Linked DNA regions of Homo sapiens: regions 1, 3, 4, 5, 6 and 7 are each linked to region 2. The links come from fine-mapping of genetic effects on plasma protein levels. Region 2 holds a variant in brackets. A gene starts in each other region. All regions are shown on their forward strands.

Region 1 (4,000 bases), not on the chromosome of region 2:
CCAAATGATGCATAAGAATGTCTCCCTACATATTGATGTGCTACATGATGTTTGGGGAAAGAAGTGTGTATTTGCATGAAAAAATGTTTGAGGAATGTTTTACGACACATAGATGCTTTTGACTTATAAGGGCTTGACTCCAGTAATAATGTCAATGTCTCCACCGTAACCACAGATAGTAATATAGCATAAAGATCAATACAGACAGATGACTTCTAGAGACAGAAATGTTCTCATAGTCACAACAGAATAGTTGTAAGCATCAAATCTAGAAGGTTCTCTAGCCTAGAAATGCATGAATGTATAATGCAACAAGTAAGAACGTGAAAGCACTTTGTAAACTCCGATGGTAACCAGCCTTTCTTAAGGTAGCTTTTCCTAGAAATCCATTTAATTGTTGGACTCCTTTGGGCAGTGGAATTCTGATTGTCATTCATTCAGGAAGACTGTATTTCTGTTTTTGGTCCTTTCACCCACCTTTCATCCTTCACATAACTGTACAAAAGTTGAAAGTCACAAAACCATAGAAAAGTCTCAGTTTCCTACTGTAGAATTCTTGTCATTTCAGTAGTCACAGTTAAACTTGTTCTAGGTTTTTCAGATGCTCTTTTCCAGGACTTCATATGTTTTGATATTTTTAAAAATTCTTTCTTTCAACTTTCTGGAATAAGAAAACAAGAGTTTTATTTACTTGGGCTGTTCTTGTTTCCCCCAGGACATCTAAAAACATGTAGTAAGAAGGGGAAGCTGTTACAACCAAGGACCCCTTAACAGAATATTTCACACAGGATCATAGCAGAATCTTTCTGTAGTTGTCCACATTATTTTCTTTTTCAAAAGATCTGTCTTGGATAAAACAGATTATAACATGGGAGTAATTTGGTAACTTACTTTGATTATAAGCCTTGCTTGCTTCGATTTGGGATTTAGGCATCGTTGTCCTTTATTTTCTTTCAGGGTAATACTGTTAAAAGAACATACAAGAGTCTTAAAGTTTAGATGCAAATACATAAACAAAAAAGCCTGCACCATTGTCATCTTCAGCAAGTTCATTACTTACATCACTTCTATTTTGTCACAGTTGTTACTTGGGTACATTATGGAGGCTTTCTCAATATCTGCCACTTTCACTGCTTTTACCCCAGGGCCTATGCAAAGACAGCGTCCTCTTTTGAACATGGGGAAGCCTAGAATAGATCATAGCATTAGTTAGTAATGCATCTGATTGCAACAGATGGCTGTGGTTTATAGCTGGTGGTGAACGTGAGCAGAATTTTCATTAAGGGTAAAGATAGTAATTTGTCAAATAGCACTTAACACAACTGTTACTGGGAAAAGTTAAGTAAGATGTTGATTATTTTCTCATTAAATTAGTAAGCAAATCGCTAACAAATGGGAAGCATGAAGGAAGTTTATTGGAGGTGAAGCTTGTTTTGCCCCCTTGATTTTATCCTCAAATATTTTCCCAGGAAGCTTGTTAACATGATCGCTATATAAAATCTTCTTAACAGACATTTAAAACTGTTGCTAAAGGCTTTTGCCAGATATTCTAGCCAAATCAAAAATTCCATGAAGTTCATAATTTCTAGTTTCAATAATCATCTCTAGTATCTTAAACATGTCCACCATTTCTGTGCTAAAGCTGTAGTAACTTCTAATCTGTGAGATTAAATAAAACTTTATCATGTCTTTTAGGATAAAAGTGGAAGAAAAGACATTTGAAACATTAGAAAAGGAACTTATAGGTTGAGAAATAAAAATTACTGCATACCTTGAACAACTGTAGCACACAATATCACAGCCAAGGCTATAGCCATGCCCTTCACACTCATGTTTGTTTTTTGCTGTTGCTGCTGGTGCTGCTGCTGCTACTTCAGCTTTGCTGCTCTTCTTGGAAGGAGTAGAAATGCTGAACATGAAAGGAAATTGATAATTGGCATATATAGAGCATTTTATACACCAGCAATCCTTTTATGGCACAGGAATTTCCCTCTTTGAGTCATGCACCTTTCCTGCTTCCAAGAGTTTCTGTTTTGTTCTCTTCTAAATGTTACTGTCCCTTCCTATTTGCAGTAGTGTTGAAAGTGATAAGAATGTGAAAGCACTGTGAAAACCCAGATGGTAACCAGCCTTCTTAAGGTAGCTTTTCCTAGAAATCCATTTAATTGTCGGACTACTTTGGGCAGCGGAATTCTGATTGTCATTCATTCAGGAAGACTGTGTTTCTGTTTTTGGTCCTTTCACCCACCCTTCATCCTTCACATATCTATACAAAATAATATTCTGAAAAGCTTTTTTTTATTATCTCACTTTTGCTTTTCAGTCCAAACTCTTATAATAGATAAGGCCTATATTATTTGACACCAGATGACCTTTATTCAATTTCATATTTTTACCTGTAAATGAGTGCCTAAAGAAGTTTCCCTGTGTTTCTGTATTTATGTCCATATTGTTTTGCATTTTCAACAATTTTTACTTTATATATTTTATTTTGTTTTGCTTTATTTTATTTTTAAATTTAATTTAATTTTATTACTTTATTTTATATTTATTTTATTCTGCAAAGCTTTCATTATAGGCAGATGGCAGGGGGCTCAGTCCTTCTTGGCAGCTGCTTTCCTCATGGCAGCCAGGACGTTGCTCAGCTCCTCCTGCCTTCTCTTGGTGCAGATGTTTGTCCCTACCCTTTTCTTGATGAATTTGAGGGCCTGTTTGACCTTGGAGACCTTCAGTAACTCCATGCCACGCCACTCGTTAGGGGTGAAGCCACACACCTCTGGGATCATGTCCCACACAAATTTAGTGAGTTTGGTCAGGCGCCCACAGTGGCTGTGCCTGGGCTTGCTCACATTCTTGGTCACCTTGTGGCCCTTGTTGAGGCCCACAGCTATAGGGTAGTGCAGTGTCATGGCTGCTGCCCTCCAATGGTGGCCATGGTGGAAAGCTACTTTATATATATTTTAGCACTGTTACTTAGTACATGAAGTTGTATGAGTTGTATTAGGGATCATAAAAAAAAGTGATCCTCTTTGCTCATGTGATAGTTTTACCTCTGAGATTCTACTTTGATGTAATTCCTATTTTTTTGTCTTTATCTTTTCCTCTTAAGCTTCCTAAATCTTTGTTTTAAGTGTGTCACTTGTAGATGTTTAAGAAAATCATATCAAAGGAGCTTTCTAATGGGTAAGCTTAATAAAATATATTTACTGTATAACTGGTAATCTGTAATTTTTAAAATGCTTCCTTGCTGATTCTTTATGTTTTCTTTGATTTCTTTCTAACTTTAAATATATTTTATTTAACTTTTTGAAGCCATTTTTGTTTTTTTTAATGAGATGGGTCTCACTCTGTCACCATTCTGGAGTCGAGTGGCACAATCATAGCTCACTGCAGCCATGAACTCCAGGCCTCAAGCAATCCTCCTGCCTTGGTCTCCCAAAGTGCTAGGATTACTGGGATGAGCCACGGTGCTTGGCCTTCCTTAAGTAATTTGAAAGGAATACATTGTTTTACATTTTGATATTAATTCTTAAAATTCTTTAAAAAGATTTTTACCTGAATTTTTCTAATTATTTACATCAACCATCAATAATATTTTTTTAGCTCCTGTCTTTGTAACATGAGAAAATCACTGTAACTTTCTTTCAAGAATTTTCTCCTATTTCCTAGTTTTACCAATAAAAGTTGGTATAATCGGGGAATTTATAGCCAGTTTATTACTTTTAGATTATTATTTTATCTTATTCAACTTCTTTTTTTGAGAATTATCATTTGCATTTTATCTTGAAATTATATATTTATTTAGATATAATCCTGCATTTAAATTCTTTAACAACCATGACTAGTCTTTAAAACCTTTGAAAGTCTTTACAGTAGTCCCCCATTAAATGAGAAATTCTAGAAATAATTCATAAGTTTTAAATTGTGCACTTTTCTGAGTAGCATGATGAAATCTCACATCATCTTGCTCCATCACTTCATCCCATCACATAGACATTTT
Region 2 (4,092 bases):
GTGAGCGCCTTCTAGCCGGGCTGCCAGCGGGTAACATATGATTAACACAAGTTTGGAGTCTGTCTGCAGAGCAACTTTATGAAATGCTCAGAAAGCCAGTCTCCTAAGCATAGGAGCCTGTTTGGTGGTGATGGGATGAGGAAGCAGTGGGGGCTTTGGCACCAGAGGCCTGGGCTCAAATCCTGCCTCCATCATTTAGGGGTTGGGCATCTCCATTCCCTTATCTCTGGGTGGCGAGAACTTCCTAAGTTCTTAGTGTTTGGAAGGGACCCCCTCCATAAAGTGAGGTGCCTCTTGGCCACTGCTCAGCCAGTGGGGGCTGTTCCTAACAGTTGCCTCCTCCGATTGCTGGAGTAAGAAATGACACCCTGTCTCCCATTTCTGTGGCACCCCATTCTCAACAGTGATGGTTCTGCCTGTTTTTAGTCACACACACCTGCACACTTCAAAGGACTAAAAATGGACTCAGTTTTCTTTCTTTTTTTTTCTTTTTGAGATGAAGTCTCACTCTATCACCCAGGCTGGAGTGCAGTGGCATCATCTTGGCTCACTGCAACCTCCGCCTCCTGGGTTCAAGCGATTCTTGTGCCTCAGCCTCCCAAGTAGCTGGGACTACAGGCATGTGCCACCACACCCAGCTAATTTTGTATTTTTAGTAGAGGTGGGGTTTCACCAGGCTGGTCTCAAACTCCTGACCTCAAGTGATCCTCCCACCTCAGCCTCCCGAAGTGCTGGGATGACAGGTGTGAGCCACCTCGCCCGGCCTGGACTCAATTTGGATTGCAATGCCCCACAATGGTGACCTCCCTCTTCTCTGTTAATGCATCCTCTTCCCTCTTGCTTAAAAATTTCCCCAGTGCCGTGGCATCTTACCTCCTGCTGAAGTGTGTGCTGATGCTTTGCTGGGGGCTGGACCCCGTCCCTTGGAGCCTGGCCCAGGCCCTGCCTCCCAGTGAAACCCTGGCCGCCTTTCCAACCTCAGAGGCTCTATCTCCTCCCAAACCCTGTAGCCCTTCCAGTTGCTGGTCACTGACTTCCATTAATTGGCCCGGTGGCCTTGCCTGCCAGGGGGACCATGAGGTGAGGGGCCGTGTCCTCCGAGTGGTCTCTTTCTCCAGGGTGCTGGGGACCCAAGAAATGCCTGGTCGTTTCTCATAGGTTGATAAGGAAAATGAGGCCTAGGTAGGGACAGGCAGGATTTCACCTGAATTTACAAGATGATGCAATGGAAGAGTCTTCAGTATATTTTCACGTATTTTAGAATTGAGTTACAACATTCATTTTGGTACTTTCTCTGTGTTCTCCCCATGTGTTAAAAAGCAGCTTAAGGCCGGGCGCGGTGGCTCATGCCTGTAATCCCAGCACTTTGGGAGGTCAAGGCGGGTGGATCACGAGGTCAGGAATTCCAGACCAGCCTGGCCAACATGGTGAAACCCCGTCTCTACTAAAAATACAAAAATTAGCTGGGCGCAGTGGCAGACGCCTGTAATCCCAGCTACTCGGGAGGCTGAGGCAGGGGAATCGCTTGAACCCGAGAGGCGGAGGTTGCAGTGAGCCAAGATTGTGCCATTGCACTCCAGCCTGGGCGGTAGAAGGAGTTTCCAGCTCAAAAAAAAAAAAAAAAATGCAGCTTAAGTGCTGGTTTAGCGCCTGTAATCCCAGCACGTTGGGAGGCTGAGGCGGGAGGATCACTTGAGCCCAGGAGTTTGTGACTAGCCTGGGCAACATAGCAAGAACCCGTCTGTACAAAAAATAAGAAAAATTGGCCAGGTGTGGTGGCGTGCATCTGTAGTCTCAGCTCCTTGGGGGCTGAGGCTGAAGGATCGCTTGAGTCCAGCAGGAGGTCAAGGCTGCAGTGAGCTATGATCAAGCCATTGCACTCCAGTCTGGGTGACAGAGTGAGACCCTGTCTCAAAAAAAAAAAAAAAAAAAAAAAAGGAAACAAGAAAGAAAAAAGCAGCTAAATTCTGCTGGAAGTGTGCAGTAAAGCACAAGTTTTCAGCCATCAACGCAGGGAGCCGTTAATCACGACCCATAATAACCAGAATGTTATTCCACGGTTGCGGTTTGTTTATTTCATCAGAGTTGCGTCTTCACCTATTTCCCTCCCTACTCTTAATTGTTTATCCAAGTTAGTGTTTTCCATTCTTTCACTGAAGGCTCTAAAAATGGTCCCATCAAGAAGTCTGGTAGATAATGGAAGACGAAGTGGACTTTACAGAAAGATGAATTTTCTTCCCTAGAGCTGGAAAACCCTTCAGCGTGTCATGCGTTCCCCAGCCAGGACAGACAAAGCCACGCAATCTGTTTCCTGCAGGCCCAGAGGGGAAGGCTTCCTCCTTGTGGTTAGTGACTTCAAAAGCTGTCCTCACTAGAGCAA[G/A]TCCAACTCTTCCTCTAGTTCTGATGACTTCACGGCAGCCAACTGAGCTGCTGAACGCTGTTTTTTTCTACGCAGAAACCCTCCCGACTTTCACGAGGAGTTGACAGGTTTTCCTCTTCACTCGGGCTCCCTTGTCATCGTTAAACTGAAACTGCTTTCTTGTAGCCAAATTCTGTGGTCCCTTTTCGGCCTCGGCCTCCTTGACCTCTCTGTGTCCCCACCTTGGCTCTCCCACGCCTGCCAGCCGTACCACAGGCCCCGGGTGTGAACCCTCCCTCCGCGGTCATGCAGCCACGCCTCTGCTCAAGCTGTGCCTCCTCCTGGGCGCACCCTCCCTCTCCCATCCTTCAGCCTCTGAAGTCCTGCCCAGCTCCGGTTCCTGTTTCTGTTAGGACGAGGCCCTTCAGATCCTCTCCAGCAGGTGGACTCTGTCCTGCCCCGTACCACCCGCCGCGGGCCACTTTTGGGCCTGCGCCATGTTCCTGCCCTTACCCCGCCCGGTGTTAGCGTCACGTGGGTCCTGATGTCCTCCCTCTCCCAGGCCTCTGCTTATCTGATTGGGGGCTGTGCTTGACTCTGAAACCCGGGCACCTCCTACAGGGCATTTTGCCTGTCACAGGCCTAGCATTCAATACCTATCATATTTTTGAAATATCTGCAGAAATAAAAAGAAATAACTATTTTCTTCTTCAGGAGTTAAGATGCGTGGCCACCAAGTACTTTTCAATACATAAAATATGTTTTCAGCACAGAAAGGCCTTTCACCGCTCTTACTTACATAGTCTGCTTTTGGTATGATGGGGACGGATGAAAAATGAGGACTGTAGGCCTCCGAAGTCAGCTGTTTTGAATTAAAGCAGCGCACGCTTTGAGTCAGGTGAAGCGAGGATGGGGTTTCACCCGTTGAGGATGAATTTGCTGGGTTACTTTAAACTGGAACTGTTCTTTTCAGAAATGAGTGAAGCAGGAAGGGAAAGACGGAGCTTGTCTGGCTGGGTCGGATGACCCCCTTTGCCAGGCCGTCACCCCTCTAGGTTGAGTTAGCTCAGAATAACTTAGCTGTGCTATAGCTTTGCATAATTGCAAGGAGCTTTGTTTCGTTTTATTTTGCAGGGAATTTTTTTCCCCCCTTAGCTCTTCCTCCTGGTGTATTTGTAGAAATCAGCTTCATCATGGTCATTTAACAGTAAGGGCTGGGGGTGGTGGCTCACGCCTGTAATCCCAGCACTTTGGGAGGCCGAAGTGGGAGGATCACTTGAGGTCAGGAGTTCAAGACCAGCCTGGCCAACATGGTGAAACCCCGTCTCTACTAAAAATACAAAAATTAGCCGAATGTGGTGGCACGCACCTGTACTCCCAGCTCCTCGGGAGGCTGAGGCAGGAGAATCACTTGAACCCAGGAGGCGGAGGTTACAGTGAGCCAAGATGGTGCCACTGCACTCCAACCTGGGCAACAGAGCGAGACTCTGTCTCAAAAAAAGAGAAAACAGAACATACTATTTTTGTTGTTTCTGAGGAGTAGGGTTTCTTACCAGGGAACCTGCTTTAAAAAAATGCAGTATGTAGATTCCTTAAGAATAAAGTTAAGCAGCAGCTAACCAAGCACATGGCTAAAAACCCGGCCAAGAGCATTGTAGTATCTGGTTTTGGGGTTGGTGGTGGGGATCCCATTTTAGAGGCCGACTTTGGTTTGTGATGGTTAGGTTTTACTT
Region 3 (4,080 bases), not on the chromosome of region 2:
TGAAGTTCAGTCATCTCAGCTACCCACTCCATGAATGATGCCCAAGTTCAGGGAGGACTAACCCATTCCTAACATTGTGTAGGGTTGAGGCCACTATAGCAAAGGAGCTCCATCTCTGTGAGTCTAGGCACACAGAAAACACTCAAAAAATGCCGAATGAATGAACTTGCCATCTGTTCTAGGGTCTATTAGGTTGAGCTTTTGGAAGGCTTCTTCTTGGTTTCTAACCTATAACTGTCAGCTTTTACTTAAATACTTAATTTCCTGGATAATATATGGCTCAGTGAAATTTGGGCAATGTTTTCAGTTAAACTAACATTTATGAGCACCTAATAATAGGCGCTGGTGTTACAAAACTGTATAAGACAAAGGCATTGTTGTCAAAAAGTCAATGTAGATCTAAGGGTCTAGTTTTGGGCTCCAATTTTCTTCTCTGTAAAATCAGGGCAGTAAATATTTAAAGTGACTCACTGTAATTAACATCATATTCTCTATGAATGGGTGAGCAGATGCTGCCTCTTACTTTCAGAGAAAATTACTACCCTTGTGCTTCTAAGTATGCTTTAGACTTTACAGAGGTTTTCTAGTCTCTCTTTCCTACCAGGGAAGCTTATCACACTTTTGTTTCAGAACCTAGGATGTCTTCAAGTAGCTGGAAGAGATAAAAGTGGTAGGAAAAGCACTGCTTCACAAGAACACAGCATGCCATAGCTTGCAAAGTACTCTCAGATATGCTAATTCGATCTTCAGCATAAACTGGAAACATAGGCAGGATGTGACGTTTTCTTCATTTTACGGGTGAGAAAGTTATGGCTCTTACCACTAGCCCTTCCTAAGGGAAACAGGGAATGACCTATACATGCATATACAGGGCAGCCCTCCACAGGGCATTTCAGGGACTATCTGGATGCAAGAGGGGCATGCCCCCGAGAATGGTTACTAGCCACCCCTGACTAAAATACTAAAAGCCTTAAAACCCCCTTCTCCTTCTACTTCATACCTTAAACCCTGCAAATCATCTGCTTCAGCTTTATACTTCCAGACCAGTGTATTGCCCCAACAGCAGATATTTCTACAGTAAAGAAATGACACCAACTGCCAAGGAAGATCATGTCTTTAGGGATTACATAATCCCTGCACAGAGGAATCTGAACCTGAAACCAAAGCTGAGCGAGGCGCTGTCACCTCATCTCCATACCTAGTTTTCTGACCTAAAGAATCTTAATGGTGAAAGCTGCATTTCCTTTCACCGACTTCACAACCTTGAACCTTGGGGCTCTTTCAGGGCAGCCATCGAAACCCTGATAAGAAGACTGAGAAACAAACAAAACACTCAAGGTGAGAGTTTGGTATCTTAACCCTTGACCTCTTTGGGAACTTAACGGGAGGAGGGAATGGGTTAAGAAATATGCAGCACCTATAGTCAGGGCCACCCATCCAAAGACACATTAAATATTAACTACACCACTGACTAAAATACTAAATACTGCCAAGCCTTGGAGGAGAGGAAATAAAGAACAGTTCAAGTTCTGGCATCTGGAGATGGTGGGGTGGGGAGAGGGCTCCAGCTCCATTCCAGGTTGGCTTGTCTGTACCTTCTAATCAGACCCAGGTCCCTCTCATCCTCCTCCCACGAACCCCCCACATGTCCTCCAAGAGCTTTGCCTCTCTGCCTACTAGTCAAAGAGGTTTCCTGTCTTTCAATCCAGGTGTCTTTGCTTCTTGTTGACTACCCAGAAATGTGCCTTGGGCTGGAAAATATCCTAAGAAAAATAGCAGAATGACTAAAACTTGCACAGTTTGCATATCTGTCTCCATGAACACATGGGCAAGTTTCTGTGTGTGTTTAGGCAACATTATCATCTTCCCTTTCACCAGTGTGTTTGAGGGAAGGAGCAGGTAGAAATACCCTCTGCATAGCAGAGCTTTGTTAGACACTGCCAGTGGTCTTTATTCCTAAATTCACCATCTAGGGCAGCCCTCAGTCTGTGAGTGTGGGGTGTTGGCTCTGTGGTGTGAGGTGAGCTCAAGCCTAAATCTCCAGTTGCCAGGACTGGAAAACCCATATATTCACTCAGGGCTGCGTGTGCCAGGCCCTTGAGCCTGGCACTGAGGGCTTCCCACTTCCCTCTTCTCTGCAGCAGGAGGAAAAGAGTCAAAGTTAGGGACCAAAGGGTTAAACCCCCCAAGATGGATAATGGAGAGGCAACTTGCTACTCTGACTCGACTCCTACATCTGCCTTCCTTCTGCAGGTAAATCTGCCACACAAACTGCCAACTGGGACACCTGCAGGAAAACAAACAAAGCCACCACCCTGGTCTGCTTCTCTGTCTGTGGACTCTGCCACACTACCTTGGCTTGAGCCCCACTTGGAACTCTAACTAGACTTGACATGCAGCCACGAAATATTCATGTGGGTGAGGCTCGGCACAGCCAGGTAGCTTTCTGTTTGCCAGTCTCTGTGTCTATTAACAGGCTGAGTCAGAAAGTTAATTGAGTAGAATCCAAATAAACTTGACTTTGCAGCTAGATTATCCATGGGTTTTCCAAAGATGAGCTGGTAGCTGAAGTTTTCTCCATGTGCCCCAACCTCATATCCCTTTACAAACAACCTAGTACAGCTCATGCCTAACACACCTGTACACAGAGAGCTCCATTATCACATGAGCATGATCAAACACACACACACATTGCACCCATTATTTAAATAAAGATCGACACCGAGTTGGTAAAGCCACGGGAGAATTTCCTGTTACAGTCGCTATGGAAAACCAAGATACTCTCCCCCATTTTGACTCCCTCTATTTCAACTGTTCTTTTCTAAAATCACAACTCAATTTCAATTGTTCAGAGATGGAAATTTCCAAAACAAATCTATTTTCTTTTTCTTGTTGTTTGCACAATATGCCTATCCAACCTAAAGGGATAAATGAAAAAGAAGGTGCCTCCCAGCCCCAGTCTCCACAAAAACACTACAATCTCAAGTTGCTACCAACCTGATCTGATCCCAGAATGGACTCAGAGAATTGAGGAACAGAGAGGAAATCTCCCTAGCTGGGGTATAGAGGGACACCTCCCCTCCCCTGTAGCTCTGATTTCCCATGAAACCCCTTCCTATTGCTATAGGATAAGCAATAGTTGGTTAGTGATTAACTCACCTCCACTGGGTTGGGGGCTGAAGAGAGAAAAGAAATACCCTTTTGTTTCAAAGGGCAGAGATGGAGACAGAGGCTGCTTCCCCTGCCTCCTACTGTTTTCTTCTCCTTTTGAGCTCCTCCTGACTTACCTAGATAGGTAAATGCTTCATCTGTGCTGCCTGGCCCCCACCCTGCCACTGACTCAGCCAATCCTAGCCTCCCCTCCCTACCTCTCATTCCAGCTGTTTCCTCAGGGAGGGAATGGGAGGGGAATGAGCAGGGTGGTGCTGTTCCCTCTTAGCCAATCATCTCCTACCCTCCCCTTTCCTGTTTAGAGCTAATAAAGAGCTCTTTAAAAAAGGAGGGCTGGAAGGAGGAGGAGCCGGTTTGGGCTGAGACTGGAAGGACAGGTGGCAGGGAGGGAGTAGGCAGAGATAGTATATATATTTAATGTTGATATAAAGGAACGCAGACAGTCCTCTGGGCAGTGTGCTTTTCCATAGGTCTATGTGAAACAGGTTTTTCATCTAGAACTACCTTCTTCCGCTTGGAGCTTAGTTTTCCCCTGAATTCTCTAGGCTAAACTCATTTGTGTTCAGTTTTGCTGCTAGCTTTTCTAGATGTTGAAAGTCACTTTCTTCCCCAAGCCTAATCCTAGCTCATAAGCCTAGCAATTCCATTCATGTCCACTGAAGAAGGTGTCCCCAGGCTAGGGATGCTGTAGTTGGGCCAGTCTCGCCCCAGTGCTTGCCAACAATCTCCTTGGCCTAATTTATTTCTGGGGGAAATAAAACCATTCATCCCCTAAGAGGTCCGTGTCCTGATGAAAGAGTGACTGGACAGCTTGAAAGGAGAGAGCATGCACTCTGTCATTTGGTCCTCTGCTCTCTTTTGGCTGTTCATGGAAGGTGGCAATACATATTATGAAATAAAAACAAAACA
Region 4 (4,077 bases), not on the chromosome of region 2:
TAAGCACAATTATTCCTGAATATTTGTGTCTTGTGTCCTCAGATCAGAGAATTCTATTACAGGTAACAAGTATGGTCCAGATAACCAGGCAGTCCAAAGGGAGACTGAGGCTTGGCTGACGCTGAAAAACGGTTACAGAAGGACAAGTGCTGGCACAGAGCCTTGGCCACCCATCTCTGCCCCCAAGTGCAATTCATTTTCTTTGAAAGAGGAAAACAGGCAAGGGAGAAAATATATAGAATTGAAAATACATTATGCAAATGTGGCTAGCAAGGATTAAATTGTTAATTTTAGAGAAATAGGAGAAAGATGCCCAAGTTGTGCTGAAGCAAGGAACCAGGACTTTCTTAATAATTAGTTTTGTCAGTCCAGTAGTGTGCAAAGGTTGAGCTGCTTGTCCCCAGGGACAGAAATCCCATAATTTTGAAAGTCTTTTGACCAAGAGCTGGCTCAAAGCAGAATATGTGCAATGCGTTTCTTAACTATTGAAAATCTTGTCACCACGGGATATAGACATGCTAGTCAGACTTCCGTACCATGACAGAAGGTCAAATCTGAAGCAGTAAAAGAGATCACATAAATATTGCCATCTCATTTCCAAGCTAGTCCCCTTAACTATTAAAACACGGTGACCAGATCGCTGCTTCGGGCCTCCTGAACTCCCGCCTCTCCCACCCGGAAAGTACTGACCCAGAGAGGACACACCTTTGCTTCTGCGCAGCCCAACTTCTGCAAGCGCTCAAGAGTTAATTACTCCTTCACCTTCCTGGGGCCTAACAGCGTTACTGGGTCCTGATTATTTATACAGACGAAAAACGATGTTCAAGAGATTTTGACAACTTAAAAAAAAAAAAAAGAATGCGGTGGAAGTCTAAGATTGCCTCCCCTATGACAAAACACAGCCCCGCCGGCCGCCCGGGCCCGACTCCGCCCGCCCGCCCGCCGCAGTTTCGGGGCTGCGGCCCGGGGGACGCGGGCGCGGCAGGGCTGGGGTCTCCTCCGGGAGTCGCGGGGCGCACGGGCCGGGAGGGGCACGCGGGCGGCACCTCGCACCCGAGCGGCTCCCGGGCCCGGCGCCCGCTCACCTGGTGCGTGTTGTTGGCCAGCTTGGCGACGAAGTCCCGGACCCGGCCGCACTCCTCGTCCTCGCCCGGCGCGCTGCGACGCCAACGGCCGCCGCGGGGAAACGCGCCCCCGGCTGCGGCCGCCCGCAGCCCCCAGCTCACCCCGATGGGGCCAGACCAGCGCGGCAGCGGCGCAGCGGGCGGCGGCGGCGCGTCCAGCCGGTCCTGGCTGAGGGTCGACGGCGGCAGCAGCTGCAGGAGGAGGAGGAGGCCGAGGCCATGGGGCCAGCGCGAGAGGCCGTCCGCAGCTCCCCAGGGCCGCTCCATCGCCGCCGAATGCCGCCGACGCCGACACCTGCCGCCCGGCGCGCCCGCCCACCCCCGCCGGCGCGCGCCACACCCCCGAGCCGAGCGCGGCGCTCCTTGGATACGCGCGGCCGGGCCTCTCCGCCCCATAGGCTGGCCGCCTGTCCCTCTTCCCCGGCCCACTCCTCATTGGCTCGCGTCGCCTCCGGCTTCGGGGGTCCTGGATTCGGATGCTAAGATGCGGGACTGATTGGCTGGAACGGGGCAGAGACTGCTGAGGTCAACCCCGCCTCGCCCGGCGTCTCCCGGGCCCGGCTTGTGGAGTTCACGTAGGAGCTTCTCATACCTTCCCGCCGAGCCCCGGGCTCCTGGCGTCGCGACCCCTTGCCGCACCTCTAGCGCCCTCAAGTTGGGGCTGGGTTACGTCCCTCCTGTTCCCCAGAGACACTCCTAAAATTCCTTCGGTGAGGCAGAGCCTGGAAAAACCTACCCAGGAAATCCCTGAGCTTGCTCAGCTGGAAAAGGGGGCTCCATCATGAACCGGGGCTTCGGGTTTTTATAAACCCCGCTCACTGGAGCGCCCATTGTCTGCTAAGCAGCTGCCTTGCTGCAAGAAGGTGAATGCGAACTGATGTGGGCCACATCCTACGGAGACAGACATCAGGACATCCGTGACTCCTGCAAGCCTGAAGAATAGTCTTTCCATACGTTTGGCCTCTCTCACCTTCCTCTTCTGAGGGGAGGTAGGCCAAAGGCGGAATTACTTACAGGTTTTCCAGGACTTCGAATGTAGCTTAGGCATTAGGGGCAGGTAAAAGAGGGGCAAGAGAATGATCCAATGCCTACTGTACACATGATCATTTCCTAGATGCACATTTATTTTACCAAAGTGCCTTAACTCTGCAGTGAGAGCTTCGGACAAGTTTGGTTCCAGTATGTGATGTCCTCTAAATTAGCACCCCGATCCACCTCTAATGAATAAAATAAAACCCCTACGCTGTTCCCTTTACCGCAGAAGCTGCACACACAACTTCTACAACACGTAGCACAGGTAAAACCAGTTCTGAATCCTTAAGCTTACTGACTCCATCCCTTCAGAAAGCTAGAAATTGTTCAGTAGAAAAGGTAGCAAATAGAAAGATACAAAATATGCAAGTCATTACACTCAAAGCAAGTAAAGATTACTTTTAATTATAAACTGGCCATAAACCCAAATGAGGATATAGTCATTGTAGAGCAAAATGATACAATGCACCCAACCCGATATTTACATTAAAATATTTCCAGTCACATTAACTTTCAAACAAAAAGACTTAACGAATTTACAAATTTTTCCAAGACGTGAGAAGTGAAAAATGTTTTTGAATGCCATCTGAGCAGGATAGTAAAATCACTAGAATAGTCTTTTTAAGTTCTCAGTTACTGGACTGAAAAGATAAAGCTGATGAAAATTGGTGAACAATTTGTTCCTTTCCATAACTACTATCAGATTAATTTAAAAAAGATTATTTTTAAATCTATGCCAACTATGGGAGTAGATCACAAGACAGTCAGTTCCAGTAGCATGTGATTAGGTGGGGGGAGGAAAGGGGGTTATAAAGGAATATTTCTTTGTTTGGGTGACACAAAGATGAATGGTCTATTGTCTTACTGTCTGAAAAGAAAAAACAACTCAACAGTGCCACCTCCTGGAGAAATTACCAAATACACTTTTAAACGCTATTAAATTTGTTCCAATTATCTGTACCTTCACTTTTTAGTATGTTGCTTTTAGTTATCACAGGCTTACAGTACTTATATATTTCCTTCTTCAAACTGTATCAGCTTCTGGGACATGGTAACTTGCATATGGCACTGAGAAAATGTTTGAGTGAATATATTTATTATTTCACTTTTTAAATTGGAAACCCTAGGAACTATATTTCATTTTTGTCTAATGAGATTGACATTAAATATAAAAGTGGCACTGTCAGTTCTCCTTTGTGAGATACTGGACATAAGATTTCACCTTATTTGCAGGACTAAAGTAAATTTATCTTATTACTAAAAACCGTACCTTTCTCCAGGAAACATTCTATAGCAGAAAGATAACATAAAGCAATTACACATCATGAAACCATTGCTGTTCGTAGTAAGATCACTTCTTTAACCTAAGAAAGCTTGTTTTAATATTCTACAAAAAAATCAAAGTTCTACCTCTTTGAAGAATGCCAATTATAGAAGGTACGAAATTTACTGTTTTACCAGGTAAAACACAAATATGCTGCCCAGCCAGTGGGAGGGAAAACAACTTAAGCTGAGGCGAACGGACATAGGCTAAGAGCTACTCCTTAGTATTTGGGCATTTTTCCCCCTATGAAATGCATGTGATTCAGAGACACAACTCACCTCTCCCAAAAGCAACATGGGCTTTATCCATTTCTGCATTAACCTAGAGTTAAAAAGGAATATTGTTTATTGTTTGGCTCTCCCCACTAGAAGTTTCACAGGAGCACAGATCATATCTACCATTTGAACAGCTCTCTGCCTGATGGCTAATACATTTCTTGGCATATAGTAGGTAGGTGCTCAATAAATTTGTTACAGGAATAAATGAGATAGGATTTTCAAGGGTATTTTCTATTAGGATTTAATAAAACAAAGTGATCTTTAGAGAAACAAATCTCCCCATCAACATGCTATACTTAATAAGTGTTAAAATCACTAG
Region 5 (3,998 bases), not on the chromosome of region 2:
AAGTCCCAAGAGCTCTCACTGTTCACTCAAGGGTCCTAGAAGCCCCTAGGCTTCCGCCCCCACCCCTACTCCCATGTAATCAAGAAGAGGACGCTGTAGAAGACCAGAAATGTCCTTAAGCTAAAGTACACTTGATAGGTGATAGGTGGGGGACACTTCCCCACAACCGCCTGGGCCCGGGGCCAAGTCAGTAGGCTGTGCCCCTGGGTAGGAACACCTTTGGGTGGAGGGGACTCCCAAAACAAGGCTGCCTTTAATTGGCCTGAGAGGGAGTGGCAGGAAGGCAGATCAGGGAATGCTCCCAGCTGGACAGGAAGAACTGGTTTAGTATAGCAAGCCCAGCCAAACAGAGGAGAGGACAGCTGGGTACTGAGCCTGGGTTCCCTTCCAAAATATGGGGGTGGTAAGGGGAATGATGGAACAGTCGGGGGAACACCACCCACAATGGGAGGGCTACTAGTCAGAGATCCTGGGGTCCTGGATGCCCTCTACTAACCCAAAGTAGTACCATTTTACCTCTCACATTTGGGAAGTGGGCATAATAGAATCCCCATGTGACAGGTCTTTTTGTGAGGACAAAATGCACCAGATCTGTCATATAAAAAGTACTCTATCACTCCTAACTGCTATTAGCAAAGTCCTTCTCCCTGGGCCTCACTTTTCTCTACCTGCAAAAAGAAAAGGACACGCTGGATCATCTCTTCAGTCCGAGCCAACCGTGACTATGTCTGATTTTTCCAACCACAATCTAGAAAAGAGGGAGGGGACAGGCCAAAGGGGAAGCCCTGTGCCCCAGTTACAGGCAGGAGGTCTGTGACATTAGCCAGGAAGGGGAGAGCTGAGGTCAGGATGAGACTTGACACCTATCTCAGGAAGCAGCTGCCCAGGGCTGATGTCTCCTGCAGCTGATGGGTCACCCAGGCAGGACTGACACAGTCCCCTTCCCCCAAACTACATCCTTCAGAATGCCCCCAGGACACAGCTGACTGCTCAGCACCCTGAAGCACCTGAAGGCTCAGCAGCCCCTGGGAGGAAACTGGCATGTGACTGGGCACACGGTGACCTCAGCAACCTCCTGGGTCCTTTCCTCTTTTTCCCTGTACTGCCTAGGTGGTATCCCTTCGGATGCTTCCCCAGTTGCTTGACCCGACACATCCTTCAGGGCCTAGTTTAGAGCACTGTGCTAGAGGCAGAAGGCTTGGGTCCTCAGCCACTAACATTTTAGGCAAGGTAGCCTTTGGTTTAGGTTAAGTCATCACCTCACTCTGGCCTTGTTTCCTTCCACCTCAGAATTCCTTTGCCTTCCAGCCTAAAATCTCAACCTATTCTAAACCCGTCTTTAGTTACCAACGATGGGACACCTGGAGTAGCACAAAGAGTAGAAGTTAAGCTAAAGCAGAAACTTGAAAGCCTGGCTGCCTAAATTTCAATCTGACTCACCCATTTATTGTGTATTAACTGTGTGACCCTGGGCAAGTTACTTAACCTCTCTAGCCTCAGGACCAGTTTAAGAACAGTACACAGTAAGATTGTTGTTGGAATTAAGCTCCTGGATATACCCATTAGAAAGTTATTAGAGCAATGTCTGGCCCCCCGACAAAGGCGCTCCACGTTTGCAATCATCATGGCATGCCTGGAATTGTGCTGGAAGTATTGCCTAGGGTCTCATTCATTCCTCAAGAAGAGCCTGCAGGCAGAATCAACCTTCCGCTAAGTAAATTCAGAGGAACAGGAGCCCCAAGGCTTTCAAAGAAATTAACATTAATGGTTAAACTGCAAGGACTCACTCGCTCTGAAAACTGGGGCTAAAGGGCACAAAGGGGGCACAAAGCTCAGGCTGTGGGGGACAGATTGCCTTCACCAGTAATTCCCATGCCCCCCAACTTCCCAGATGAGATTGCCCCCCTCCTCCTAAGCCGGCTGCGGGCATGGATAGAGCTTCTGCTGGCCCAGGGACAGCTATGACGGAGGCCAGTGGACAGTGAGAAGGAAAGGTTTCCCTGGGCTGATTGAGGCCTTCTCTCCCCCCTACCCCCTTCACCTCACTCAAGGTGGATGCTTCAATTTTCTTATCTGCAATTGAGAAAAAATGAACACACTTCTTGCAGAAAGCAGAGGCTCAGCTCCTGGCTAAGTGTTGAGTCTAAACCATTCCTCTCCTCTGTCCTCGAAAAGAGCAGAGTCCCCAACTTTCTAGAAACCCTAACGCAGTGTCCCCTCTTGCCCCATTCCCTCAGACCCTTGGTGCAGTATTGGGAAGAGATTCAGAAGGGCAGGACTTTGCCCTAAGTCACAAGTCAATGACAGAGCTGGGGCCAGAACTGAGGTTAGGGCTCAGTTCTCCTTGGTGTGTGAAAGAGGGCCTCGCACAACCCTAAAACCCTCCCCCTTCCGAGTACACGCAGCCCCCCGACCCCCAGGGCCATCTCGGATCCTAAAGCTGTCTGCTCTGGGCGCCCCGAGAGCGAGGAGGGGATTCAGCGCTCCAAGCCTGCCCCAGGGTCACCAGGGAAGGGACGAGGGTGTGGGAGTTGAAGAGTTGACACCGGCTTAGTCACTAACGAGCCCGTAGCCCGCGGCGGGGCTGAGGCCCGGGGAGGCGGGAAGAGCAACAGGCGAGGGGCGCACGGCGCGTGAAGCCATCCCGGAGGCTGGCCCGTGACCCCGGAGCAAAGTTTCCAACAAAGTTTCCCGGGCCTCGGTGTCCGGTTGGGGGTAGCGTACCCCCGATCTGCCCCCCCCCATCCCACGCTCCGACGAACAAAGGAGGCACCGGCCTGCGCCCCCGCTTCGCCCCCAGCCCGGGAACCTCCAAGCACCCACCGACTCGGCGACTCCGCCTACGAAGAACAGCAGCAGCGCGAACAGACGGGCGGGGGCCATGGCACCGCGGACTGGAGAAGGCGCGCAGGCTGCGGCGAGTGGCCCCGGGCGGGCGCGCCACCCATCTTATAGGCGGCCTACCGGCCCCGCCCCGGCCCGCCCCCGCCCCGCCGCCCGCACCCCGCCCGGAATTCCCCAGTGGAAGCGAGGCCTGCGGGGCACTGCGCCCGCCCGCGGAGTTGGAAACCCCAAGGGACCCGCCCTGCCCGAGCCCGCCGGCTCCTACTCAACCCCTAGTCCTACCCTCCGGGAGCTCCAACTCCCTTTATTTATTTGACCCACTGCCAGGCAGGTCCCCAGAGATCACTGCGGCTAACCCCATTTTATAGTTGGGGAAACTAAGGCCCAGGGACGGGAAGGACTTCCCTAGGGTGTTGAGTTTAGACCAGCCTTCATACCGGGTGTGCTCCCCTCTGAAGACACAGAACTTCCCAAATGGGATGTGAACCGTGTTAAGACAGGGGACAGCAAACTATTCTGTAAAGGGCTAAATATTTTAGGTTTTGCGGGCCATACGATCCCTGTGGCAACTATTCAAACTCGAGCGTCGTAGCTCAAAAGCAGCCATAAATACTAAAGGAATGAGGGCAGCTAGGTCCTAATAAAACATTATTTATAGACACCGACATTTGAATTTAATATAATTTTCATGTGTCACGAAATATTATTATTCTTTTGACTTTATTCCCAACCATTTAAACATGCAAAAATCGGCTGGGCTCTATGGCTCACGCCTGTAATCCCAGCACTTTGGGAGGCCGAGGAATAGGAGGATCCCTTGAGCCCAGGAATTGGAGACCAGCCTGGGCAACCATAATGAGACCCCCATCTCTACAAAAAGTTTTTAAAGAAATTAACCAGGCATTGTGGTGCACCCCTGTGGCCCAGCTACTCTGGAGGCTGAGGTGGGAGGACTGCTTGAGCCAGAGAGGTGAAAGTTGCAGTGAGCCATGATCGCTCACTGCACTCCAGCCTGGGTGACCGAGTGAGACCCTGTCTCAAAAATAAATAAATAAATAAATAAATAAATAAATAAATAAATAAATGACATTTTATAATAAAAATGCAGGCCGGATGCAGTGAGTCATGCCTGTAATCCCAGCACTTTGGGAGGC
Region 6 (4,092 bases), not on the chromosome of region 2:
GGCAACAGGTGAAACTCTGTCTCAAAATAAAATAAAATAAAGAAAGAAGAGGCCTATACCTTCTTCCAAGCCTTGACGGCTCAGCACATACTTCTCTGTTTTCATGCTCAAGCCTAGGTTTAGTAGGCCTGAGTGGCAGTGGGAGATTCAAGTGCTGGGGGAGACCTTTGGCCTCACATTCAGATTCCACCTTGAGTCCCATGATCTCATTGCAAGGTTAGACTTCCATTGTTTAAGGTAAATACCATTTTGATAACTCAGTTACGGCTTTTCATGTATTATTATGCTAGGAGGGAGGCTGAAGAGTGGGAGTGGCCCTGGCTCCTGAACACACTATTCTCTTTCCTGCCTGAAGGCCTCCGCATGTGCCATTCCTGATTCTTGGAATGTTTGTCCCTTGGCCTTTATCATCCTTCAGAGTTCATTATCAAAGCCACCCCTCACAAAGCCCTTCCTCCGCCACCCCATTCAAAAGATCTCTTGTTATTTTCCATCCCAGCCCCTGATTCCTTTTCTGTATAGCACTGTCAAAGTGTTTTCAGGCCAGGTGTGGTGGTTCACGCCTGTAATACAACACTTTTGGAAGGATGAGACAGGAGGATCCCTTGAAGCCAGGAGTTTGAGACCAGCCTGGGCAACATAGCAAGTCCCCTGTCTCCACAAAAAATTTAAAAATTAGCTGGATGTGGTGGCTCACATCTGTAGTCCCAGCTACTTGGGAGGCTGAGGTGGGAGGATCCCTTGAGCCCAGGAGGTCAAGGCTGCAGTGAGCCAAGATCACTCCATTGCACTCCAGCCTGGGCAACAAGAGCAAAACTTCCATCTCAAAAAAAAAAAAAAAAAGAAATAATCTAAAAGTGTTTTCAATAATAATGCATTTATGTTGATTACCTTGTTGGCTATCCTCTACTCGTGTGCCTGCCCCACTCCATTCCCCTTTCTAGAGTCTGTTCACGTAACTCCTCTTCCAGGAAGCCCTCTTTGACTCCCAGGCTTGGTCAGGTGTCTTCTCTGGGTTTCCCCAGGGGCTTCCTTCCTCTCAATTCTGATGCTGCCTGTGCTAAGTATTTGTCTCCATATCTGTCCTGAGAACCTTGGAGCCAGGGCTCGGGGCTGTTTTTGCATGGGCCTATCACCTCCTCCAGGAAGCCCTCCTTGGCCCTCTCTCAGGCTGGATGGGAAAGCTGTCTGGGCTCCCATCATGCCCTGGTTTTCTAGCGACCCAGCCTCTGATCCCTAAGCTTGGCCTTCCCCATCACAGCTTTCATCACTTTGTGCTAAGCTTCCGCTATCACTACTCTGGGCCGTTCCTGTTTGGTGACTCAGGGACCAGTCTGGCATGGCCACCGCTGGGTCCCCAGCATTAAGCCCTGGAGCATGAGCCCAGTGAACTTTGAAATTCAGGAAGGAATTCACAGGAAAGCTGCGGCGAGGCGGGCAGAAAACCACAGGCTTCCAAGAAACGCGTGTCTGCCGCCCCCTCCTCCCACCCTGAGGCCAGTCCTAGAGCGAAGGCCCTCCTCCGACGTCGTCACCAAGCCCAAGGGAAGGGTGGCAGGTGCTCAGCGGGCAGACGCCCCGCCCCGCCCCGCCAGGTTCTGTTGGGGGCGAGGCCCGCGCAAGCCCCGCCTCTTCCCCGGCACCAGGGGCGGGCCCAGGTGCGCCCAGGGCCGGGGAGCGGCCGCGCAGGTGCCTGCCCTTTGCGCCTGCGCCCAGCTCGCCCTGCCTAGCCAGGTGCGCCCCGCCCCCTGCCTGCCCGGCCACCTTCGGGAGCCGCTTCCAATAGGCGTTCGCCATTGGCTCTGGCGACCTCCGCGCGTTGGGAGGTGTAGCGCGGCTCTGAACGCGCTGAGGGCCGTTGAGTGTCGCAGGCGGCGAGGGCGCGAGTGAGGAGCAGACCCAGGCATCGCGCGCCGAGAAGGCCGGGCGTCCCCACACTGAAGGTCCGGAAAGGCGACTTCCGGGGGCTTTGGCACCTGGCGGACCCTCCCGGAGCGTCGGCACCTGAACGCGAGGCGCTCCATTGCGCGTGCGCGTTGAGGGGCTTCCCGCACCTGATCGCGAGACCCCAACGGCTGGTGGCGTCGCCTGCGCGTCTCGGCTGAGCTGGCCATGGCGCAGCTGTGCGGGCTGAGGCGGAGCCGGGCGTTTCTCGCCCTGCTGGGATCGCTGCTCCTCTCTGGGGTCCTGGCGGCCGACCGAGAACGCAGCATCCACGGTGAGGGCCGGGCGGGTAGGCTGGAGGCGGGGCGCAGGGGGCAGAGGCTCGGGGGTCAACGGGGGTCTGAGCAGGGAGAACTGGCGGGGGAGGAAACTGGGGGCTACTTGATGGCGTTCAGCGGGTGTGGTGGAACCAGCCCTGGAGGATTGAGCCTTGAAATGAGGTTTGGGAGCCTTCGACAGCGAAGACGGGCGGAGGAGCGAGGGTTAGGAGAGTTTCCTTCGGGTGGAGGAAGAGTCAAGGGGTATTGACCAAGAAGGCGTGGCACTGCCCCTTCCTGTGGCAAGAACGGGGTGAGGAGCCGAATTGAAGACCAGCCTTCTCCTGGCGGTGGAAAGTTCCATGGCCAAAGCTCAGGGAGAGGCCAGGCCTGTGAGATGGTGGGGGTTGGGTTGGGTGACCTGGTGGCCGTTTTAGACTCGGAAGAAGCCCATCTCACCCCTGCCTCTTTGGAGATTGGACAAGAGCCTCCCCTGAAGTTTTTGTAGTTGAGTTGCAGTAAAGTAGGTGCCCGAGAAGGAGGGAGCAAGAAAGGAAACAAGCTTTGGGGAAGAGGAAGCTCTGCTAAGGCTCGAGAGAGTATTGGCGTTGAGCAGCTGGTGTTGGGGTCTTTGGATTGGCCCTTAGAAGTCGGTGGTGAATAAGGTGATTTAAACTTCTACACTCTTAAGGAAGTGTGGTCTGAAAGGTCTCTTTGAACAAGTGTTGTTATAACCTTAACTGCTTCAGACAAGCACCAGCGTGTTTTGAAAAGAGCTCTCTTGAAAGCAAGAATTCATTGATTCAGCAAAACTTACTGAGGCCCTGCTACGTGTCAGGCACTGGCGCTGGTTATAACAGTTAACTCAGACTAGCTGGGTTCCTGCATTCACAGAGCTAATATTCCAGTGGGAGAGGCAGAGCTAGTGAAGGTTTAAAAAGCACTTGCCATGAGATTAAGTTACTGAGAATTAAATGAACCAGGTGAAGTACACCAACAGGGTGACGTAAGATGTTGGGGGCGGCTTTAGCTCAGGTGGTCGGGGGACGTCTCCGTGAGGAGGGTGACATCTGAGCTCTAACATGAAGAATGAGGCAGTAGCCACACGGAGACCTGGGGGACCAGTGTCCAGTTGCAGGCAATAGAGTACAAAGGCCTTGAAGCTGGAACAAGCTTGGTTGGGTTCAGGGAAAAGACAGAGCCAGCCTGGCTGGAGCAGGCGTGAAGGAGGGGAGGACTGGAGGAGGATGGGAGGTGGGAGAGGTTGGCTGCAGCCAGATGGCCTAGGGCTTTATAGACAGGTGCTGGTGCTTGAACCCGGGAGGCGGATGTTGCAGTGAGCCAAGATCGCGCCACTGCATTCCAGCTTGGGCAACAAGAGTGAAACTCCCATCTCAAAAAAAAAAAAAGAAGGCCGGGTGATGTGGCTCATGCCTGTAATCCTAGAACTTTGGGAGGCCAAGGCGGGCAGATCACTGGAGGCCAGGAGTTCAACACCACCCTAGGCAACATGATGAAACCCCGTCTCTACCAAAAATACAAAAATTAGCTGGGCATGGTGGTGCACACCTGTAGTCCCGGCTACTCGGGAGGCTGAGGCAGGAGAATCGCTTGAAGCCCAGAGGCGGAGGCTGTAGTGAGCTGAGATCAAGCCACTGCACAGCAGCCTGGGCGACACAGCAAGACTCAGTCTCAAAAAAAAAAAAAAGAGCAGGCTAGGTGTGTACCAAGTCATCACCTGTGGTAACTTCTGGGGACTGGTTAATTTCTCTGTGCCCTAGGCAGGAGAAAAAAGTGAATTGGTGGGGAGAGGCTCAGCTGTAGGTGACTGGGAGTCAGGAATGCAGACGTTGATCATTCTTGCAATTCGAACCAGAATTTGGCAGCTCTG
Region 7 (4,092 bases), not on the chromosome of region 2:
GTTTGGAGCTTCTCAGGCAATGTGATTTTCCTGTGGCCTAAACTGCCTTAGGTAAAGCATCGAGACTAACCCAAAAGGCTATTGCTGGGTCTCTCGGCTCCCTTCCTTATTATCACCAGCAGCCGTACCTTTTCACACACCTCTGCATTTTGCCGTTCCACCCCACCGTCTCTACCAGGACTCAGTCCCATGTGAAGGTGGGTCCTGGGTATGGCAGAGCCTTCCTCATTACCCTCTGCCTCCTCGACCTGCTGTTCCCTCCCTCCTTTCCTGTAGGAGAGCTGCCGCTGTGGGGACAGGTGGGAGTAGGTCAGGAAGCTGGATGGAGGTACACATTTCAAAGTTTTATGTAAAAAATTTGAGTTGGTGGAATTACCAGAACTAGGAGTGAAGCCTTAGCAGGTAGGCCTTTCAGAAATAGTGAAAATGAGTCCCCAAATCTCAATGGTGAATTTTTCTGAGAAATGTTACAGAAACATAAAGTGACAAATTTTTGTCTTTATATTGATAAGATAGATAGATTAGTAGAAATTGAGAAGAGATTGTCCAGGTTTTTTCTGTTGCTTATTTGTATAAGCCCAGTACATTGACGGACTATATTGGGAGTCCCTAAGCAAATGCCTGCAGGGACCAGGCAGTTAATACAGCAAACTTCAGAGGCTCATCTGCTTTAGCCAGTTCTTGCCATGGTATGGTGGAATCATTGTTGCCACATCTGATTTCTCAAGAGAAGCTTTAAAATCCAATTTGTATGTGTGTATGTATGAGTATGTACATGAGAAAGCTTTCAGTTTTAAAATGTTGGCTCAGATTTTTAAAAAGCAGACCAAAGACTTATATTCCACCTCTGCTCTAGACTTAGAGAATCTGTTCAGGATAAAGCTTAAAGAAAAGATGACAATGGAAAAGAGTCATTGGTCAAGTATTAAGTACTGACACTTAGGGTTTCCTGAATATAGTAGTGAGTGCTACTTTAGAAGAGATTCCCTCTAGTTCAAATGCAGTTACAATCTCCAAATACATGCTAGCAACTCACGATTTAAATTCTCTTTGACATAATTTGTATGGTTCAATCTCCCTCATCCTGCTTTTCTTCTTTTTCTTTCTTTCCTTTCCTTTCTTCCTTTCCTTCTCTTTCCCCTCCCCTCCCCTCTTTTTGTTTTTAACAGATGGGGTTTTACTATGTTGCCCAAGCTGGAGTGCAGTGGCAATTCAGAGTGCAGTGGCAATTCACAGTGTGATCATAGCTCACTGCAATCTTGAATTCCTGGCCTGAAGCTATCCTCCAGCCGTAGCCTCCCAAGTAGGTGGGAATACAGGCATGCACCACTGTGCTCAGCTCTGCCCTCCCTTTTTAAAGGTCAGACTGAAGTTTCAGTTTTCTGTATCCATAGAGCTGACTTTGCTCAGGAAATTTACAACTTACCTAATTTGAACGCAGCTGGCCAAGTCTGTATTTCCCTCCAGGAATGTGCACAGTTGTGTTCAGACCGTTTAGCAGGTTGGGGTGTGGAGGAAGACAGATGAATAGTAGGGGCTTTACTCCAGCCTCTAGCTGGGGATTTTCTAAGATACTGTCTTCAGAAAAGGAAACATAGCTCGAAGTTGTACCTACATGGAAGGACCTCATCCTCCAGGTGGCAAAAATTTGTAGTATGCCTGTTAGAATGAGGTTCCTTCCTGAAACTTCTGGGAGATCTAGAATTTAAAGCTATGTCATTCTCTTGTAGGTAATCAGAAATCAATTGGAAATTCCTGCTTGAAGAGATAGATATTCTTGCCCCACCTCAATCCTTCCAGCACAGATTTGGGAGATACCCCCCTTTCCAGTGAAGGCCTAAGTGTCCAGTGCCCCCACTCACCTTCTGAGGCATGTAGGGCCGCACAGACAGCCAAGGCCACGATGGCGAGTCCTCTCTGCTGCATTCCTGCCTGCCCTACTGGCACTGACAGCAACACAAGTGAGGCTGTTCGATCAGGAAATGAGGCTAAAGGTGTCCTTGGGCACAGAGAAAGTGCAGAGGAAAAGTAAGCCAGGTGGCCCCGCCCTGGGAGGTGTTCAGGGTATCTATTTCTCATGTTTCTTTCCTTAAGACCAGGCTCCTCCTCGACTTATTAAGCTCCTAACTTGTGTTCATCCTGCCTGGGGGTCAGGGGATGTCAATGGAGATCTGGCAGCTGGCAGGGTCACTGTGAGGTGGGGTGTGCATCAGAATCATTTGGGGAACATTAAAAAAAATCAATCTAAATGACTCTCCCCTTTCCCTGATTTGTAAACCAGAACTCCCAGGTAGGAGACCAGTCATTTGAATTTTGTAAAAGCTCTATAGGTGATTCTGATGGACACTTATGTTGAGACCCATTGCATAATCAGTTTTTAAGTAGCTTATGGAAACCATGAGTTTCTGGGGACAAGGGTGACAAGTCATAAAAAATGTATCTTTGTGGAAAGATATGGAAGTATTAAACCCCACTTTAGTCTTGGTTCACAGCCAAATTGTTTCCAGTGAAGCTTTTTACAATAGCTTATTTAGGAGAAAGACAGGAAGGGGGGCAATGCCTTGTAGAAAAGAGCCCAAGAGCAGGTGTGAAGAGGCATGAGCGCTAGTGCAGCTTTGCTGCCAATCAGCTTTGTGAATAAAAGCATGGGGTAGCATGAAGATAATTGGATTCTAATTGTTCCTCATCTACTAATAAGTTGTATAACCTCAGGCAACGTACTTAACTTTGCTGTAAATAACAAGTCAGACTAGATGACCTCCAAAGTCATGCCATGCTTCCTCTAGAACTGTGTTGTCCTATGTGGTAGCCGCTAGCCCACATGTGGCTCTTGAGCACTTGAAATATGAGTAGTCCAAACTCAGATGTACTATGGGTATAAAATTCACACTGGATTTCAAAGACTGGGTACAGAAAAAAATATAAAATATCTTGTTAATAATGTTTATACTGTTTATTGATTACATGATAGTATTTTGGACTTTTTGGGTTAAATAAAATATATTATTAAAATTAATTTCACCCATTTCTTTTTATGTTTTCAAATTACTGCTGTGGTTTGAATATTTTTTTCTTCTCCAAAGCTCATGTTGAAAATTAATCCCTAATAGTGCTGGGAGATAGGGCCTAATGGACAATGTTTAGGTTATGATGGCTCCACCCTCATGAATGGATGAATGCTACTATAAAAAGGGCTTGTGGGAATGGGTTGGTACCTTCTGCTCTTCTGCCAGGTGAGTACACAATGCTCCTTCTCTCCAAAAGATGCAGCAAAGTGGCATCATCTTGGAAATAGAAACTGAAATCACTGGAGCCTTGATCTTGGACTTCCCAGCCTCCATAATTGTAAGAGAATACATTTCTGTTATTTATAAATTGCTCAGTCTCGGGTTGTGGTGTTATGATATATATATTGGCTTTTATCCATGGTTCCTGGCTTATAACTCCCATAACCCTTGTTACAGTTTTTTTTTGTTGTTTGTTTGTTTGTTTTTTTTTTGAGACAGAGTCTCGCTTTGTTGCCCAGGCTGGAGTGAGTTTCACCATCTTGGCAAGATGCTGGTCTTGAACTCCTGACCTTGTGATCCACCCGCCTTGGCCTCCCAAAGTGCTGGGATTACAGACATGAGCCACTGTGCCCAGCCCAGTCTTTTTTTTATATTATAATGTTGGGGCACTTTAGGCTTCAGGAACAGGCCTCAGGAAACGGAATCTCTCTCTGACCTTCTGTTTTTCTTTCACCTGCCCAAGGCAGGACTCTAATCTGATTGTGGGTCATAAGATCCTCATTCCAGAAAGGGTTCTGTCCCATACTCTAGAGGAAGGAATGCTACACAGGCCAAGAAAAGCCTGAACAGGCAGGACTTGCTGGGTTTAGATTATGTGCTTTTTGTCTAATCACATTTCTACATGGTTGTTAATCATGCCTATGTAATGAAGCCTTTGTAAAACCCCAAAAGGGCAGAGTTTGGAGAGCTTCTGGATAGCTGAACATGTGGAGGTTCTTAGAGGGTGGCGTGCCCAGGGAAGGCATGGAAGCTCTGCATCCCTTCCCCCATACCTTGGCCTCAAGCGATCCTCCTGCCTTGGCCT

Direction of the effects. Alleles are on the strand shown, and positions count from the first base shown. The strength of an association depends on the size of the effect and on how common the allele is.
With allele A in place of G in region 2, the plasma level of the protein whose gene starts at base 1,915 in region 1 is higher (moderate association).
In carriers of allele G in region 2, the plasma level of the protein whose gene starts at base 3,337 in region 3 tends to be higher than with A alone (weak association).
In carriers of allele G in region 2, the plasma level of the protein whose gene starts at base 1,417 in region 4 tends to be lower than with A alone (moderate association).
In carriers of allele G in region 2, the plasma level of the protein whose gene starts at base 2,923 in region 5 tends to be higher than with A alone (weak association).
With allele G in place of A in region 2, the plasma level of the protein whose gene starts at base 1,793 in region 6 is lower (weak association).
For the plasma level of the protein whose gene starts at base 2,001 in region 7, allele A in region 2 goes with a lower level than allele G (moderate association).

Evidence for each region. PIP is the posterior inclusion probability: the model's chance that the variant is causal. The UK Biobank Pharma Proteomics Project read protein levels with antibody pairs (Olink). The fine-mapping took linkage between variants from a reference panel, not from the people measured, so its PIPs are less certain.
Region 1: it holds the start of CXCL11, and the variant in region 2 is fine-mapped to the plasma level of the CXCL11 protein (UK Biobank, PIP above 0.99).
Region 3: it holds the start of C1orf116, and the variant in region 2 is fine-mapped to the plasma level of the C1orf116 protein (UK Biobank, PIP 0.97).
Region 4: SORT1 starts here. The variant in region 2 is fine-mapped to the plasma level of the SORT1 protein (UK Biobank, PIP above 0.99).
Region 5: it holds the start of SDC4, and the variant in region 2 is fine-mapped to the plasma level of the SDC4 protein (UK Biobank, PIP above 0.99).
Region 6: it holds the start of SPINT2, and the variant in region 2 is fine-mapped to the plasma level of the SPINT2 protein (UK Biobank, PIP above 0.99).
Region 7: it holds the start of CCL28, and the variant in region 2 is fine-mapped to the plasma level of the CCL28 protein (UK Biobank, PIP above 0.99).

Annotation. Positions count from the first base shown.
Region 1 is chr4:76,034,156-76,038,155 of GRCh38, forward strand. It overlaps CXCL11 (C-X-C motif chemokine ligand 11), which reads right to left and starts at 1,915. Exons shown (of 4, transcript NM_005409.5): 1 at 1,772-1,915; 2 at 1,061-1,187; 3 at 892-964; 4 at 1-661. The coding sequence starts at 1,832. The coding sequence ends at 638. It also overlaps a transcript of ART3 not described here and the pseudogene RPL36P8.
Region 2 is chr7:101,854,270-101,858,361 of GRCh38, forward strand. All of the region lies in intron 1 of CUX1 (cut like homeobox 1), which reads left to right. Among named protein-coding and RNA genes, the nearest start is that of CUX1, 39 kb to the left of the region's middle. RefSeq lists an enhancer at 2,653-2,782. The variant G/A (reference allele first, on the strand shown) is at 2,381.
Region 3 is chr1:207,029,420-207,033,499 of GRCh38, forward strand. It overlaps C1orf116 (chromosome 1 open reading frame 116), which reads right to left and starts at 3,337. Exons shown (of 4, transcript NM_023938.6): 1 at 3,160-3,337.
Region 4 is chr1:109,396,502-109,400,578 of GRCh38, forward strand. SORT1 (sortilin 1) reads right to left here and starts at 1,417. Exons shown (of 20, transcript NM_002959.7): 1 at 1,086-1,417. The coding sequence starts at 1,391. It overlaps PSMA5 (proteasome 20S subunit alpha 5), which reads right to left. Exons shown (of 9, transcript NM_002790.4): 9 at 2,541-4,077. RefSeq lists silencers at 1,194-1,293, 1,304-1,373, 1,414-1,543 and an enhancer at 1,570-2,551.
Region 5 is chr20:45,345,502-45,349,499 of GRCh38, forward strand. It overlaps SDC4 (syndecan 4), which reads right to left and starts at 2,923. Exons shown (of 5, transcript NM_002999.4): 1 at 2,824-2,923. The coding sequence starts at 2,883.
Region 6 is chr19:38,262,781-38,266,872 of GRCh38, forward strand. SPINT2 (serine peptidase inhibitor, Kunitz type 2) reads left to right here and starts at 1,793. Exons shown (of 7, transcript NM_021102.4): 1 at 1,793-2,218. The coding sequence starts at 2,113. RefSeq lists enhancers at 1-283, 424-1,341 and a silencer at 1,498-1,817.
Region 7 is chr5:43,410,391-43,414,482 of GRCh38, forward strand. CCL28 (C-C motif chemokine ligand 28) reads right to left here and starts at 2,001. Exons shown (of 3, transcript NM_148672.3): 1 at 1,863-2,001. The coding sequence starts at 1,926.